Homo sapiens: one gene and its partner. The protein of the gene in region 1 purifies or fractionates together with the protein of each later gene. This does not show direct contact. Each region holds a gene or a part of one and is shown on either strand. Other genes may lie near its edges.

Region 1 (4,044 bases):
AGCATTTTGGAGATTTGTTCTTGGTTTCCTTGGAAAAAAATATCTGTCCTTGTTGGAGTGGAATTCTCTGTGCTGCAAGATAGAACCAGATGTGGCCTGAGTCATTTTGACAAGCCATTCAATAGTTGAAGGACAGAAAGAAAAATTAGCATGACAGTTTAGAAATCTAAAACCAGTTCCATTATGCAGAGGCTGCATGGTTGGAAGTTTTAGCATTCCGTGTGCTTGATAGATGTTAGTAGAAAAGTGGAGCATCGCCTGGGAAGTCACTGACAAGTGGATCATAGCAGAAACAATTCTTGTAACAGTGGCTTTTTCCTGGAGAGGTAAATAAGATCGGCAGTGTTCAAGTTACAGAACAGTGTGCAAGTGAGCCCTCTGCAGTACTGAACTAGGACTGCTTTTAAATGTCTAGTTATATTTCTGATAAATGTAACTCAGGGCATCTTTGTTGAGGAGAGAGTCCTTGCTGGATGACAGCCCACGTGGGTCTCAGGCTCAGGCGTCTTACTGACTAGGAATACCATGGTGGACAGGTCAGTTAGCCCTCTCTGAACCTTAGTTTTCCCCTTGAGAAATGGTATAACACCTGCTCTCCCTACCCGAGGCTTGTCTATGAGTCTCAAGTCAGATTATGCACATGGAAAGTATCATCACTACTATATAAATGTATTCCTCAAATGGCATTTGACGGTTCCCTCAAGTAAAAATGAGTGTTATCTCTTTCTTACAAACAGGTATACAGATATGGGGCAAAAAAGCGAGTTGGGTATTCAAACACTGGGGTACTAAGCCTAACTTGGCTTTGATGTTATTGGATAATCTTGAGCAAATCATAATGCCAATCATATTGATCACTTAATATATGCCACACAATTTTCTAATTCCTTTTTGTATGGAGGTAGGTCCTTTTACTGTCCCTATTTTAGGGGACAAAGCTGAGGCTCAGAGGAGGTAAGAAACTTGTCTAAACAGAGAAGTGGCAGAGCCAGATTTAGATCCAGGGTTGTCTGACTCCAAAGTCTGCTTTTACTTGCTTTCCTGTGCAGTGACTTCAGGTCTCTGAGCCTCTGTTTCTTCATCTATAAAGGGGGTGCATGAGAGAATCTCTGAAATTTCTTCTTGTTCTATAAGAAAATAACTATCCTATAGCTATAGACTCATTACCTTAGCCCTGGCTTGTCAGATTTCTATCTCAATCACAGCCCAGCCAGCACTTGCACACTTAGGAGGAGCCTGGGGTCCGAAACAGGGAAGTGTCTGCCTGCTCACTCTTTGCTCCCTAAATTTTTTCCATGTAGGGAAGATGTACATAAGGTGGATATTATGACGTTTTGCCAGCAGAAAGCAGCTCAGAGCTGCAAATCTGAGACACTGGGGAGCAGAGACTCAGCTCTACTGTGGCAGCTCTTGGTTCTCCTTTGTCGCCAGAATGGGGTAAGTTCTGTTCTGGTGGGAGAGCAGGTGCAGGCTGAAATTTAAGTCTTCATGGGATAGATAAGATTATGTTTATGACATGATTATGAAAAGCAATATTAAAGAAGCCACAAATTGCCCCAAGGGAAAAAATTGCTCAAATGTCAATGCGAGTTTGCTAACGCAGATCTTCCCTGATGATCTTCTTCCTTGGTCTGGGAAAATTGTACAGTTTCTGGGTTATTGCACCAGCCAGATAATATACCTGTGAAATTGTGAATGTTTCTGGTAAGCTTTATGGCTCCTGACAGGCAGAAAATAACCATGATAGTGATGCTGAAGTCTGAAATATAGCAATCTAACAAAGGACTGCCTTATGTTTGCATAATTGGCTTCCATGTGAAGAAGGCAGGCTCCCTGGTGCCTTCCTTCTCCAGCTGGGGCTGCCAGCCTGAGGACTCATAGGATTCTCCCCAGATGATCCTCTTTGCCTTACAGTCCATGGTGGGGTCTGACATCGCTGAGCTGCTAATGCAAGACTGCAAGAAGCTGGAGAAGTACAAGCGGCAGCCCCCTGTGGCCAACCTCATCAACCTGACCGATGAGGACTGGCCAGTGCTGAGCTCTGGGACCCCGAACCTGCTCACGGGAGAGATCCCCCCCAGTGTGGAGACACCTGCGCAGATCGTGGAGAAATTCACTAGGCTGCTCTACTATGGAAGGAAGAAGGCAAGTATGCCCTTCCCCCATACTTATTTTGAAAAAGCAATCACCATCCCTCTCCACCACTCACCGCTGCTCAAATTATGTGAATAGTATATACTCATTTCAGGGAGGATGCAAGAAGTTCGGAAAGACAGAACAAAGAAAATGAAAACACCCATAGTTCTACCACTAAAAGACAATGAACTATTAAATGAAATAAGCCAGGTACAGAAAAACAAACATCACATGTTCTCACTTATTTGTGGGATCTAAAAATCAAAACAATTGAACTCATGGAGATAGACAGTAGAAGGATGGTTATCAGAGGCTGGGAAGGGCAGTAGGGGAGGGTGGGAGGGAGGGTGGGTGGGTTAATGGGTGCAAAAAAAAGTTAGAATGAATAAGACTTAGTATTTGATAGCACAAAAGGGGAACTATAGTCCATAATAGCTTAATTGTACATTTAAAGATAACTAAAAGAGTATAATTGGGTTGTTTGTAACACAAAGGATAAAGGCTTGAGGGGATGGATGCCCCATTTATCAGGATGTGATTATTATACATTGCATGCCTGTACCAAAATATCTCATATTTTTTACTCCATAAATATATATACCTACTATGTACTCATACAAATTAAAAATAAAAAAGATAATACCTGTTAACATTTTGATACATTTACTTCCAGCATTTTCCCATGCATATATATTAAAAAGAAAATAAAATTGCATATACAGTTGTTTATTTCTCTTTTTAAACTTAAGATGATATGGTAAAATACCCTCATGGCATTATATATACCCCAATAGCGCCATTTAAAAAATAGTTATACAATATTCCATCATATTAATGTATCATATTTTATTTATCTATTCTACTATTATTGAATATTTAGACTATTTATAATTTTGTCAACCACTATAAATTATACCATTTACACATCTTGTTACATAAGTCTTTGCCTGATCTTTTAAATTTTTTAGGGCAGATTCCTAGAAGTGGAATTATTGGGTATATAAAGGGCATGCACTTTTAAAAGGTTCTTTATATATACACCAAATTAATTTCCAGGAAGTTTGTTTACAAATACTCCTGCTGCTATATCTAAGGCTTCCTATCAATATTGAATATAGATGCTCCATGACTTACAATGTTTACATCCCAATAAACCCATCATTAAATAGAAAATATCATAAGTTAAAAATGCATTTGATACACCTAACCCGACATCATAACTTAGCCTAGCCTACCTCAAATGTGCTCAGAATGTTTACCATAACCCACAAAATCATCTAAGCCAGAGTCTGTTTTATAATAAGGTGCTAAATATCTCATATAATTTATTGAATATGCTACTGAAAGTGAAAAACAGAATGGTTGTATGGGCACTTGAATTACAGTTTCTACCGAATGTGTATTGATTTCACAGCATTGTAAAGTCAAAAACTCATAAAGCAGGGACTGTCTGTACTTTAAACAGATGAAGATTGATTTCTAGCTTAATTTTGAAGTTGAGATTATGCTTTACAAAATTCATAAAAATTTAAGTATTTGGATAGATAATTAAAATCAATTTGAATCAATTTAATTCAAAAATTAAAATATAAAAAAGATATACTTGGGAAATGATGCTCCCACCCCCTAGTCACCCAGTTTTCCTCTCAGAAATATCCAGAGAAATTTTATGCATATATTGTTATTTTCTCTTTTCTAAAAAATAGCATGCTGTATACCATTTCTGTACCTTCCCTTTTTGATTTTACAAAATACCTCAGAAAACACTCTATATTAGAGTTGCCGAACTTTTTCTATAATTGGACAGATGTAAAAAATGTAAAATGTAAACATTTTACATTTTGCAAGCCATGGGGTCTCTATTACAACTACTCAGGTCTGCCCTTATAGTGTGAAAGCAGCCACAGA
Region 2 (3,500 bases), on another chromosome or scaffold:
TGCCCATGATGTCAGTGCTCAAAAAGTTTCAGATTTGGAGAATTTTGGATTTTTGGATTAGTGATGCTCAACCTGTGTCATCTGTATTTGTAGCTATTGAATCTATGATGATTGTATGTATACTTGTACACATATTTATTTGACGTATTTCAAAATGTCAATATGCAGTTAATTACAACTGAATCGTTATAAGTAGAGGCAAGCTTGACTATTATATTTTTGGTATGGTCATGACCTACCAACTTCCTTATTTTAAAACATAAATTTCTTGCAATTTGCCTTCTCTTTCTTTTTTGAAAGTCAAGACACATGCACATCTCAGGTGTCCTGAAGATTGTTTTTATGTTTTCTCTAATTTTATTCACAACTTTTCCTTTCTTTAGGCCATGTGAAATGAGCTGGAGAAAGAGATATGAACACAGAATGCACAACTAGATGCTCTCTAGTTTCTTACCTTATCTCTACTTTCTTTCCATTACAAGAATAGATCTCTGCATTCTTGCCTTGAATATAGCTTTAAATATCACTTTGAGTGTTTCTGACACTTTTTATAAGCTTTTCTTGGCTTATGAAAGCTTCTGGATTTATCCTTATGTTGTTCTTAAAGATTTATTATATTCTTTAGTTGGTTTTATCACCTGCCAACTTTGTATGTGTACTTTTATTTAACACTGTTTAAACCTTTATTATGCAAATAATGCATAATTATTGTAGAAAATTAGAAAATATAAAGAAGCAAAAAGTAACATCACTGCTAAAGTCACCACAATTAACATTTTGGTTTTTCACTGAGCAAAATATACATATGTAAATATGTGTTTAATCAAAGGAACTGTCTTATTAGTATATTGTAAATGTAGCCTTTTAAAGAACTGATTTTCTGGGTGTGGTGGCTCATGCCTGTAATGCCAGCACTTTGGGAGGCAGAGGTGGGCAGATCACTTGAGGCCAGGAGTTCAAGACCAGCCTGGCCAACATGGTGAAACCCCGTCTCTACTAAAAATACAAAAATTAGCTGGGCATGGTGGCGCACGCCTATAGTCCCAGCTACCTGGGAAGCTGAAACACAAGAATCACTTGAACCTGGGAAGCACAGGCTTCAGTGAGCCAAGATCGTGCCACTACACTCCATCCTGGGTACAGAGGAAGACTGTCTCAAAAAAAAAAAAAAAAAAAAAAAAAAGATCCGTACAGTCTCATTTTTACAAGCCTATCCAAACTCTTCTCTTTTAGGAGTTCCGTGTCACGAGTTTATCAGCTTTCATCTAAGCTTTTCCCAAACCCATTTTTCTGAAGACTTAGAACAGTGAGGTTTTTTAATATCCTAGGGTCCATCTTGAAGATGCTATTTTGGGGTATGGGAAGAAAATATTAGGTATTTTATTTATATGTACTTTAAGTAAAATACAAAAATAAATTTTACTGATATTTAATATATAAATTGGCATTGTCCCCTATGCTTGGGCCCAATGTCAGTTACATATCACGGGACATTAAGGGATCCTGAAAAAAAGAGTGGGAGTTACACAAGGTAGAGGGAATGACAAGCACCCTTCCTCAATAATATATTATTGTTTATGTTTGCCCAATTAACTGGATTTATAGATTCTATTATCAGGTTTTAACTAAATCCTCAAAACATGGACAAAACTTTGAAAAAGATTCTGCCGTGAAAACCAAATCAAGGGTAACACCAATATCAAATGATGAACCACAAGAAAAAGCTGATGCCATTTACTCCAAGAAATGGCGTATTATTTCATCATTCACATGACATTCAGTGTAGAAACAATGACAGTCTAATTGGACCTGAGACAAGAAGACTATTTGAAATATAGATTCCTATATACTATTCTTAAAAATGAACTTCACCCTAACAGTGCCTTGAGATAATAGTAAATGGTGGTGTGAAAGCATCATAATTAGCAAGATGTTTGAAAATATTGTTTTTCATCTTTTAAATAAATGTTTAACTTTGCTCTAATATCATCTAACATTCAAGTTTCCCTAACAACCCTATCTAAATAGCCTTTTATTATTCCCAATCTTCATATATTGTTTTTTTGTTTACAGTTTTTTATTGCTAACAGACATAGTTATTTGCTACCTGTCTCCCTGGTCCCTCCCTCTTAAGATGTAAGCTCCATAAGATCAGGAACATTGTTCCTAGTGCTGTCCCCAGTAGGCACAAAATGTCTGCTGTGGAGGAGGTACCAAATAAAAGTTTTTAAATGAAAAATCTTTATCTCATTCTTTAATTTATATTTTGAGTATGTTTTACAGATGTACATAATATGGTAGTATAGTTGCAAAGGTATATAATTTATTAATGTATACTATTTGGAAGTCATGCAGACTTTTTTTTTAATTGATAGGCATATCATCAAAACATGTTGAACCTCCCCTGCAAAAAAAAAAAAAAAATGTTGGTTTAGACTGTATATCCAAACATGCCTAACATTCTTTTATTTTATTTATTTATTTATTTATTTATTTATTTTTTTTTTTGAGACGGAGTCTCGCTCTGTCGCCCAGGCTGGAGTGCAGTGGCGCGATCTCGGCTCACTGCAAGCTCCGTCTCCCGGGTTCACGCCATTCTCCTGCCTCAGCCTCCCGAGTAGCTGGGACTACAGGCGCCCGCTACCACGCCCGGCTAATTTTTTGTATTTTTAGTAGAGACGGGGTTTCACCTTGTTAGCCAGGATGGTCTCGATCTCCTGACCTCGTGATCCGCCCGCCTCGGCCTCCCAAAGTGCTGGGATTACAGGCGTGAATGCCTAACATTCTTGTTCTTGGCAAGGCCAGCCAATAAATGGCCCAGTAACTTTTTCCTGTCACTTTTATTTCAATTCTTATTTATTTGTTCAAAATTAGGTTCAGAGCAGGTTTTTCTCATCCTTCTTAAATTTTGAAGAAATTTTTTTCTTAGGAATTAGAAACTTAAACTTTTATTTATTTATTTTACTTTTAATGGAGAAAGAGGTCACCATCACTATATTTTTCTCTACCAATTTTGTGATATATATTAAGAAACCATCCATTTATTCTGTATGACTAGAGAGTCAAAACGTTCCTGCCATTGTATCACTTCTGCTTTAACCTTGTTTTATTCTAACCAAAAAATACTGTTTTATCCAGAATGGATTTTTATATAGAGGCAATAGAAGTGCAGTAACTCTAGACCTCGAGTCGAATGGACCTAGAACCAAGTCTCAGCCTTTCCTATATCTTGTAACTTTGAACAGTTTTTATTTAACCTTTCTCAGCCCCAGTTCCCTCAGTGGTATACTGGTATAATAACTATACCTATCTGATACGGTAGTTGTGAGGATTAAAGAAGATAATGCATGTAAAATATTCAACATGTGTCTACACCATAGTTAGTGCTCAAGTAATTGTTACTAATGTGTATGTGTGTGTTCCTGAATTTATAAACATGTACTCCAGATGTTCATTTGTAAATGAAATAATTTGGGATAAACTTGCATTATGCATAGAGT

What was found.
Region 2: the proteins of SEC16B (region 1) and SLC25A31 purify together in Homo sapiens (affinity purification with mass spectrometry; one large-scale study listed by BioGRID and IntAct). This does not show direct contact.

Annotation. Positions count from the first base shown.
Region 1 is NC_000001.11:177,956,233-177,960,276, reverse strand, and holds part of SEC16B (protein transport protein Sec16B), read left to right. Parts: intron 1-1,301; coding exon 1,302-1,437; intron 1,438-1,914; coding exon 1,915-2,145; intron 2,146-4,044. Other genes in the region: CRYZL2P-SEC16B (protein transport protein Sec16B), read left to right, coding at 1,302-1,437, 1,915-2,145. UniProt on the Homo sapiens protein: Plays a role in the organization of the endoplasmic reticulum exit sites (ERES), also known as transitional endoplasmic reticulum (tER). Required for secretory cargo traffic from the endoplasmic reticulum to the Golgi apparatus.
Region 2 is NC_000004.12:127,733,400-127,736,899, forward strand, and holds part of SLC25A31 (ADP/ATP translocase 4), read left to right. Parts: intron 1-3,500. UniProt on the Homo sapiens protein: ADP:ATP antiporter that mediates import of ADP into the mitochondrial matrix for ATP synthesis, and export of ATP out to fuel the cell.